3 linked regions of the Homo sapiens genome follow. The protein of the gene in region 1 purifies or fractionates together with the protein of each later gene. This does not show direct contact. Each region holds a gene or a part of one and is shown on either strand. Other genes may lie near its edges.

The links.
Region 2: the proteins of MTMR6 (region 1) and SOAT1 purify together in Homo sapiens (affinity purification with mass spectrometry, with the first as the bait; one large-scale study listed by BioGRID). This does not show direct contact.
Region 3: the proteins of MTMR6 (region 1) and BBS7 purify together in Homo sapiens (affinity purification with mass spectrometry, with the first as the bait; one large-scale study listed by BioGRID). This does not show direct contact.

The regions. Positions count from the first base shown.
Region 1 is NC_000013.11:25,256,455-25,260,113, reverse strand, and holds part of MTMR6 (phosphatidylinositol-3,5-bisphosphate 3-phosphatase MTMR6), read left to right. Parts: intron 1-1,421; coding exon 1,422-1,554; intron 1,555-2,268; coding exon 2,269-2,378; intron 2,379-2,792; coding exon 2,793-2,918; intron 2,919-3,659. UniProt on the Homo sapiens protein: Lipid phosphatase that specifically dephosphorylates the D-3 position of phosphatidylinositol 3-phosphate and phosphatidylinositol 3,5-bisphosphate, generating phosphatidylinositol and phosphatidylinositol 5-phosphate.
Region 2 is NC_000001.11:179,355,989-179,359,339, reverse strand, and holds the end of SOAT1 (sterol O-acyltransferase 1), read right to left. Parts: 3' UTR 660-3,351; downstream 1-659.
Region 3 is NC_000004.12:121,856,841-121,860,499, reverse strand, and holds part of BBS7 (BBSome complex member BBS7), read left to right. Parts: intron 1-1,321; coding exon 1,322-1,508; intron 1,509-3,659.

The sequences.
Region 1 (3,659 bases):
AGGTGGGTAGATCACCTGAGGTCAGGAGTTTGAGACCAGCCTGGCCAACATGGCAAAACCCCGTCTCTACTAAAAATACAAAAAATTAGCTGGGTGCGATGGCAGGCGCCTGTAATCCCAGCTACTTGGGAGGCTGAGGCAGGAGAATTGCTTGAACCCAGGAGGCAGAGGTTGCAGTGAGCCGAGATTGTGCCATTGCACTCCAGACTGGGTGACAAAAAAAAAATTAATAATTATTTAAAAATAGAAATTGATAACTTGATAATCTTTTATTAAAAATAAAAGACTTTATTAGGAGTTGAGAGTGTTGGTGATATCTCATAAGAAAAATTCTGGAACACTTTTTTGATAATATTAGATATAAAAGGCGATTGTAATATGAGACTTTTTGAAGATGAGGTCTGATACAGTGATTTGTTTTTCAGGACCTCATAGTTCTTATTTGTATAATTATCTTCTTCACAGAAAATATATCATTCTTTGATTGTTTTACTAGTTAAATGTAACTCAAGTAGTAATAATGTGGAAGCATTTTTTAACATCTAACTGTAGATTTTACTTTAGGTACCGAATAACTAGTGAGTCAGTAGGATACAATTTAACTGTACTTGTTACCAAACTGAGGTCCAATCCACAAAATGAAGAGCTCCTTTTCTTCTAATTTAGGCTTCGTTTTATCCACGTTCATAAGAATTTTTAATAAATTGTGTTAACATACTATATGAAATCCTAGCCTGGAAGAATTAAGCATGACAAATCCTAAGGGACCACTGACAACATTTTGATCTAATAGCTAAAGACCATGGGCATATGAGCAATCTGTTTTTTCCTGGAGACCAGTTTATTTTTGGCCCAATTCTCAGAGATGTATCAGGATAGCCGATTATATGCCATATTATATGATGTATGGGCCTCCAATAATCTCTCATATAATCTCCCTCAAGTAATCTGAAGCATATTTCAGATCTGATTTTCAGGTCCCTATGGCTCTCAGAATGATCAATGCCCTAGGCTTGTTCTGAAGTAAACTCATAGGTTCATTCTGTAAAAGGAAAGTCCCCCAGCCAGCTCTGCTCAACTGAATCATTTAGAAATTAGATAGGAGACATTTCTTTCTTTTTAATTTTAAAATATTACAAACATATGGAAACTGCCTAAAATATAAATGAATTGGTTTCATGAACTTATGGGAACTTTGACCTTTCCATTATATAGCAATCGTATTACTTTATTATCTCCTTCATTACTATTTAATAATGTGGCATTTTTACTTACTAAAAGATGAATGGTAGCTTATTCAGTTTTGATGAGTTCCTTTAAACTGCCTCCTAGCTAAAATACTGCTTATTTAATATTTTCATGACATTTTGGTAAATTAAAAAAGTAATTTGTCTCTAAATTTCTAAAACTTTTAATTTTAGCTGAATGCAATGGCCAACAGAGCAGCTGGAAAAGGTTATGAAAATGAAGACAACTATTCCAATATTAGATTTCAGTTTGTTGGAATTGAAAATATTCATGTCATGAGGTCCAGCCTTCAGAAATTATTGGAAGGTATATTATTGCTTACTTTTTTAGACACCCTTGTCCAAAAGAAATCTAATGCTAGTCACATGTAATTTAGAATTTTCCAGTGGTCACATTTTAAAAAGTAAAAAGAAACAAGTGAAATTAATTTTAATAATATCCTTACTTAATATATTATAAACATTATTTTAACATGTAGTCAATATAAAAAAAATCAGTAATGAGATATTTTTCTTTTCATCAACTCTTAGAAATCAGGCATGTATTTTACACTTACTACACATCTGAGTTTGGACAAGCCATATTTCAAATGTTTAGTAGCCGTATTTGGTTAGTGGCTGCTGTATTAGACAGTACAATTCTAATGGTTTTGCAAAAAAAATGTTATTAGATAGATATTCTTGAGTAGTCAGTACAATAAATACTAATTTGTAGTAATGTTCATTTAAATATTCCAGTCATAGTATAGAATTTAAAAAATTAAAATATAAGATTATTTTTAGTTAGATGCTTGTGCTACAATGTTTTTTAAGAGATTGGAGCATTTTTGTAAGCACGGGAATAATAGAAAAATATATCCAAGAATCAGTTATTGAGCTTTTAATAGCATCTTTTCATTTATAGAGTCTTGCCTGTTTATTTTGTCTTCTTTCTTCATTCACTTATCTAGAGAGATCTTGAAAAAAGAAATGCAGAAACTCTAGCCATATTCTAATTGAAATATTTTTATACCTCTTTCAGTCAATGGCACTAAAGGGCTTTCTGTCAATGATTTCTACTCCGGTTTGGAGAGCTCGGGATGGCTTCGCCATATCAAAGCTGTTATGGATGCTGCAATCTTCTTGGCCAAAGTAATACTTTATCTTTCATATTTGGTCTTGGGGTCTATAATGATTGGGAAGGAGTAGATGTATTCTGTTGGGGGCTGGTATCTATTCATCAGATAACTTTTATTATTTTTTACCTCTTTAATGAGCTTCACTTTATTTTCAGCCTTAAAAATATCATGTAGCACTTAATGTAGAAACTTAAAAAGATGCTCCTAAATACTTTGAAGTGGCATTTTTTCTTTGTTTTTTTTTTGTTTGTTTGCTTGTGTTTTTGTTGTTACCATATTTTGTTGTGTATTTTGGAAATTATGCTGTGACATTATCATTGCAGGCATAGCACTTCCTTGTAACACAATACCTGCTAGTATGATTTTCAAGTAGAATTTATTGGTTTACCTTAAAGTACGCTAGAATGTATGTGATCTTTCTTTTCAGGCAATAACAGTTGAAAATGCAAGTGTGTTGGTGCATTGTTCCGATGGTTGGGATAGGACTTCCCAGGTTTGTTCCCTGGGTTCTCTTTTATTGGATTCCTACTACAGGACAATCAAAGGATTCATGGTAAGGATTTATTTGGTTAGACCAATGGTTCTTAAGTAGGAGTAATTTTATGTTCCTCCAGAGGACATTTGGCAATGTTGGAGACAGTTTTGCACTAAAGGAAATGATGAGACTGGCATCCGTGGGAGTGGCCAGGGATATTGCTAACTAAACATTTTATAATGCACAAAATTTTTGCTGGGGGGTCAGCCTCACAGCAAAGACTGATCTGGCCTGTAATGTCAGTACTGTCGAGGTTGAAAAACCTTGAATTAGACTTATTTCCATTTGTGCTAACACTGACAATAAGCTTTAGATTTAAATAATTTTTTTTCCTAAAATGTTGCAATGGAAATATTCAGTATTTTCTCCCTCATTTTTATCTAACAAATGTAAATAATGTAATAAAACAATGCACAAATAAGAGTACTTAAAATTAAATTCTGAAGGAAACCTTCTATTTAAAACACCTGCATTAGTAAGTGTAATAACATATTAGGCATGTTTTATATCTGAAGATAAAATTTCTAGTTGAATAGATTTTCTCCTTTGTGAAGATAAAGACCTAGTTCCTTTTTTTTGTTTCTTTGCTTTTAAAGGTATGATCAGATTTTTATTTGCTTGCTTTTAAACGTGTGAGCAGATTAACTTATGTTTTCAAAATTTACATCTTAACTCATGGTAAATTAAATGAAGAGATGTTAGAAAATTTTCATTAGTCTTGAATTATTAAATACAGTGCCATCTTAAAGCAAAGGAAGA
Region 2 (3,351 bases), on another chromosome or scaffold:
CTGTAATCCCAGCTACTGGGGAGGCTGAGGCAGGAGAATCACTTGAACCTAGGAGGGGGAGGTTGCAGTAAGCTGAGATCACACCACTGTACTCTGGCCTAGGCAACAGAATGAGACTGTCTCAAAGACATAAAAAAATAAAAAATAGACTAGGTTTCTTCCAAATATATTTATCACATTTACATGTGCAGTATTTTGCCTTTTTTGTATATTTTTAAGTTAAAAAAAAATTTTTTTTTGAGATGGAATCTCGCTCTGTTACCCAGGCTGGAGTGCAGTGGCGCGATCTCGGCTCAATGCAACCTCTGCCTCCCGGATTCAAGCAATTCTCCTGCCTCAGCCTCCCAAGTAGCTGGGATTACAGATATGTGCCACCATGCCTGGCTAATTTTTTTGTATTTTTAGTAAAGACGAGGTTTCACCATATTGGCCAGGCTGGTCTCGAACTCCTGACCTTGTGATCCACCCACCTCAACCTCCCAAAGTGCTGGGATTACAGGCGTGAGCTACTGCGCCCGGCCTAAAAATTTTTAAGTTAATGCTAATACAACTCATACTAAACAAAGTATTGGTACCAGTGATCAGACAAGGACTTGCAGGGGGCAGAGGGAATAGCAATTCAGGAAAGTAACATACAAGAATGAATCAGAAAAGACATCTTTCACTATAGAAAAACCTTTAATAACAACTTCAGATTTACATGACCCTTCTGGTGCTCAGAACACTATGGATTAACACACACACTGGAAAGATACAGACACAGGAATCTGCTGCATTACCCCAAATGGCAAAGTCTTGACTGGGGCTTCAGCTCCTTTCCCAATCCAAAATTGGCACCTTTTTCCATGGAAATTCAAACTGCATCTCTAAATGATGGGGTACATGAACTGTCTGTTTCAAAAGTATTTAAAAACAAACAGGAAGTACAGCTTCCATTTCATTAAGAAAACACCACCACAAGACATGGTGCAGTATCTACTAGCTTAAAGTTTATCACTCCATTAGGGCTTATTGACAGCAGAAATGTGAATGTAGTAATGTAGAAATAAGGAAGAGAGCACTTAAGAAAAAAACAGTACAGAAGTTTTAGAGTTTTTTAAACTTTAATAATATGCTTGACTAATATAGTCAAAAGTGATATGCACTCGTGAAATTAACCCATTTTCTGAAGTCCAAATTAGCTATTAAAGTCTTTTTTTACCAAAAACATATAAGGATTTAGTACACTATATAGATTACATAGCTTTCCTACCAACCTAAAGCTTATCAACTTTATTATTGTCTACTGATTTTCAAACTAGGCATTAAATTTAGGGTGAGAAAGAAGTGATACACTCTGTTTCAACTAGGGTGGTTGCATATTATCCTCTCTTTAAACCGGGCTTATATGTAATTTTTTTTTTGAGACAGGGTCTCGCTCTGTTGCCCATGGCTCTGAAATGGAGGGAACTGGGACATAAATGTTTTGAGGAATTAAGTGGTGTGATCACAGGTCACAGGTCACTGAAGCCTCCATCTCCCGGCTTGAAGCCATCTTCCCACCTCAGCCGACTGAGTAGCTGAGACTACAGGCGTGCACCACCACGCCTGGCTAATTTTTGTATTTTTTATAGTGACAAGGTTTTGCTATGTTGCCCAGGCTGGTCTCAAACTTCTGAGCTCAAGCAATCCTCCTGCCTTGGCCTCCCAAAGTACTGGGATTAAAGGCATGAGCCACTACACCCAGCGATATGTAACATTTTATTTCAACAGAGGGCCAACACTGTATTACCTGACAGAAACTTTAATAATGATACAAAAGTCAAATCCTTATATAAACTTCACCCAAAACATTCACTTTGGCCGGGAGCATGGCTCATGCCTATAATCCCAGCACTATGGGAGGCTGAGGCTGGCGGATCATGAGGTCAGGAGTTCGAGACCAGCCTGACCATCATGGTGAAACCCCATCTCTACTAAAAACACAAAAATTAGCTGGACATGGTGGCAGGCACCTGTAATGCCAGCTACTCGGGAGGCTGAGGCAGGAGAATCGCTTGAACCCAGGAGGCAGAGGTTGCAGTGAGCTGAGATCACAGCACTGCACTCCAGCCTGGTGACTGAGACTCCGTCTCAAAACAAACAAACAAACAAAACATTCACTTTATTCCTTGAAACATTTATGTCCAGTTCCCTCCATTTCAGAGCCATAAAGCCTAGAGATAAGATACATAAAATACCCAGAACAGACCTTTGTGTGTATACAGTGTATGTATACATACCATATGTAGCATTGTTATGTAGTATTACATAAATTACATGAAATTTTGCATAAGATTAGTAAGCAAGTCACTGAAACTTTATTAACAATAAGTATGGGCTTGGCATGGTGGCTCATGCCTGTAATCCCAAAGCTTTCTGCAGTGGGAGTTTTGCTTGAGGTGAAGAGTTTGAGACCAGCCTGGGCAACATAGGGAGACCCCCCCCATCTCTAAAAAAAAAAAAACAAATAAATTAGCTGGGTGTGGTGGTAGGCACTTGTAGTTCTAGGTACTCCAGAGCACTATTTGAGTCCAGGAGTTTGAGACTGCAGTGAGCTATGATCACGCTACTACCAGCCTGGGCAACAGAGTGAGACCCTGTCTCTTTAAAAACAAAAACAAAGTATGAGCTATCTTCCATTAAAAAACTGATTCTGGAGCAAGGAGCCAGGAGCCGTGGCTCACACCTGTAATCCCAGCACTTTGAGAGGCTGAGGCAAATAGATCCCTTGACTCCAGGAGTTTGAGACCAGCCTGAGCAACATGGTAAAACCCCATCTGTACAAGAAAAAAAAAACTGGCCTGGGCGACAGAACAAGACTCTGTCTTAAAAAAAAAAAAAAAAAAAAAAAAAGGCAGCCTCAGTTTTCTAATTAAATTCTAACATGAGGCAAGCAACTTTACCTGCAAAGTTTTAGTATGTGAATCTACCAACAAACAAAACAAAATTCCATTTTGCATCATTATCCAAGATTGAGAATAAAAGGATCTAACAAATTTATCCTCACACATAAAGGTACTAGAAGGTCAAGTTAGAGATCTAATGAGAAAGTGATATACATACTACATAATTGTTCTGTTGGTTAATATGCCCAAAATAATAGTTACTATCATTACATCTTACAGAAACAAAAACTTTAAGCTTATTACTTTTCAGAAGGAAAAAAGTATCCTATAACTGAAAATAATTTTCGCCACAATAGCAAAATAGAAAAAATAAATCTTCCTGAAACATTAGCAAGAGATTTTAGTTTTTATTTGTTTAAAGAGTATAGGTGGTGGTTTCAAGAAAAGACTTTTGCTAAAAGCAGCTAGCAATAAGATTATGGCT
Region 3 (3,659 bases), on another chromosome or scaffold:
TAAATGTTTTTACTAGAGTGGCAAAGATGGGATAGAAAAGTTCTTTACTCAATTTTTGAAAATTGATTGTCTGAATCCCCACATTTGTAAGGTTTTATAGGAAAACAAAAGTTATAACTTGAAGATATTCAGTAAGGAAACTGACCACTTAACATTAGTCACCACATATCCTTTCCTGCTTAATGTTGCCATGTATCCCCACTCATGTCAACAATAGAGATTGCTAAATAGTACTTTGGCCAATATAATGCAAATATAATACAGATTGGTTTCAAAATGGAATTTAAAATTTTGAAAAACATAGAGAATTTCATGAAATTGATAAAAATAGTAAGAGGACTATTCAATCATATGCAGAGCCACAAAGTGAGGCCACTTAATAACTGAAGAATAGAAAATCAGGGAGGATTATTATAGGATAAGCTCTTCAGAGAATAATTTTAATATAAAATTTTTTAATAGAACTTGGAGGTAGAGGAATACATGAAACATTCAAATAAAATTACCCTCTTTATGATAAATATGGTAATAACAACCTAGAAGTGAAAAATATATCACACTTAAATATAATTTTTGTCAAGACATTTTAGCTCACCCAAGTGAAAACTCAGTTCAGTCTAAGAATTAGAATATAGTTATGACTATTGACTAAATTTTGTTAAATGTAATATGAAATAAACTTGTTTTCATTTCTTTTTTCAAGATAAAGTTCTAATGAAATCTTTTTTTTTCTGCTGTTTATCATTTAGTTTGAGGTAGAATCACTTAAAATAGACTTTTTCAGGCAATTTAGTGTGGTAGTAAGAAAGCTAACTCGAGCAAAAAACTGAGTTGCAGTCTAATCTACTACTTAATACTTAGGTGCCATTAGGCAAGTTATTTTACATTTTATTATTCACCTGTAAAAGGAATAATAATGGTCCTTATTTTATAGAGTTATGATGATTAATTGATCTAATACATAAAAATCACTTAAGATAGTGCTTGGCACATAGTACACAAAGAAGTCATTTTTTGATGTATTAATTGTCTTTGGATATAGACAGTTAAATTATCATTATCTTGTCTTTGTTTTCCATTTTTCTGAGCTCAGTTTTTATTGAGAAGCCCGAGGCCTTAACATCCTCATTTTCAGCTTTCAAAATCAAAAACAGTGTTATACCAAAAATACTAGGAATTAACTAGGAGAAAGTTTTAAAAACTGTGTTCTCTAAGTCTATAATAAAATGTTAGTAAACTGTATACATTTTTCTGTTTTTATCTCTGAAAAAAATTCAGTACCTGTGCTTATTTTTAAAAATTACTATTTTAATGTTCTCAGGCACATATCTGGCTCAGACCTCTTTCTCAGTGCAAGTTACATCTATAACCATTATTGTGACTGCAAAGACCAACATTATTACCTTTCTGGGGATAAAATCAATGATGTGATCTGCCTTCCAGTGGAAAGATTATCTCGTATCACACCTGTATTGGCCTGCCAGGACAGAGTGCTCAGAGTTTTACAGGTTGCTGTTATTTGTATTTTTCTAATTTTTTATATTATGTGAAAGAATATCAATGAACATTATGTACTTGAGATAAATTAGTGGTTACTGTTTTAAGGGCTTTTATAAACATGTGGAAACAATTTTTAAATAATTTGACATATTAATTTTTTTAACTTGAGTCAAATGTGTTGTTTTGTAAGTTTTTAAGAGAAGCATATTTGGAAGAAAAAGGATTTTTTTTGCCTCACCATACACAATTTCTGAGCTATTATCAGAATGGAGTACTTTGACTACAGAGAACCTTTACCTGCCTTTTTGTTTTGTTTTCTTCTTCCATCACCTTTATCTTCCCCAAAAATCAAATTAAAGGAAGAAATTGGGTTGGAGGGAGGATGTTATATAACTTGAGTTTATCCAGTGTTTATGGAAGTATATGGAATAAGCACTCAGTAAATATATGTTGGATAAGTAAATGAGTGATAGAGGGAAAATTCATTTTGATGTCCTTATATTTCTGGTAAAAACCACGATTGGCTAAAACAACTGCTTCAGGTCATTGTTATGAGTAATAATAGTTACCACTATATCTTCTTGAGAGTGACTTTCAATAAAATATATGCACACACACACACACACACACTCTATAGGATGCTTAAAATAATGTTTAAAGGTAAATAGCATGTAACAGTTAGATGAACTGTATCAGAAACAGGCTGATATAGTTGGTGCAGTTGATGAAAAAGTTGAGCTGTGAAGTCCATGCCACCACAGGCTATCTCACTCTTTGGAATTCCATAGTCAGATGGCCATTTCTTGGCATCAGCCCTTTTGTAAAAGGAAAAATCCAGTGAGTCTATGAGGTTTTTACCCCCCAGGGACAAAGTAATGTTAAAGGTTCATTTTAGGCCAGGCATGGTGGCTCACACCTGTAATTCCAGCACTTTTGGAGGCTGAGACGGGAAGATCATTTGAGGCCAGGAGTTTGAGACCAGCCTGGCCAACATGGTGAAACCCTGTCTCTACTAAAAATACAAAATTAGCTGGGTGCAGTAGCACACACCTGTAATCCCAGTTACTCAGGAGGCTGAAGCACAAGAATCACTCGAACCCAGGAGGCGGAGGTTGCGGTGAGCTGAAATTGCATCACTGCACTCCAGCCTGGGCAACAGAGGGAGACTCCATCTCAAAAAAAAAAAAAAAAGAAAAGAAAAAAGGTTCATTTTAGAGTTATGAATGATTAATTTCCCCCATAGCCTATGCTTTTAAATATGAATTGTTTTGAACAAGGCTTTTAACAGGAGCTGTTTAGCATTCAATTAGAAATTGACTGAATTCTAGGATTCTGCTTTGACAAGAGATCCATATGCTTATTATTTTTAAAATAATTACTAAAGATCTGTAGAAAATAAAGTTGAAGTCTTTCCCTCTGCACCGCATGCTTTTTTCTCACTCCCCGTCTATCTCTGTGAATAATCCATTACTCCAGAGGTTGCCTCTTTTTAACAGTTTTGTGTATATTCTTTTGTGTTTATATAGTTACGTGTAGATATCTGTAAATTTTAATATGATATTTTAAATAAAAGATAAAACAGGCTGGGCACAGCGGCTCAGGCCTATTACCCCAGCACTTTGGGAGGCCGAGGTTGGAGGATCACTTGACTCCAGGAATTCAAGACCAGCCTGGGCAACATAGCGAGACCCCCATCTCTTAAAAAAAATTTAGCTGGGCATGGTGGTGCATGCCAGTAGTCCCAGCTACTCAGGAAGCTGAGGTGGGAACATCATTTGAGCCCAGAAGGTCGAGGCTGCGGTAAGCTATGATCACACCACTGCACTGCACTCCAGCCTGGATGACAGAGTCAGATCCTGGCTCAAAAAAAAAAAAAAAGATAAAGCATATGGCTTTCTTACGTTTTCTAAATAAACATTAAACTTTTTTTAGTCCTGATGTGGTGGCTCACGCCTGTAATCCCAGCACTGTGGGAGGCTGAGGCAGATGGATCACCTGAGGTCAGGAGTTCAAGACCAGTCTGGCCAACATGGTGAAACTTTGTCTCTACTAAAAATACAAAACTTAGCCAGGCATGGTGGCCTGCACCTGTAATCCAGCTACTCGGGCAGCTGAGACAGGAGAATCACTTAAACCCGGAAGGTGGAGGTTGCAGCGAG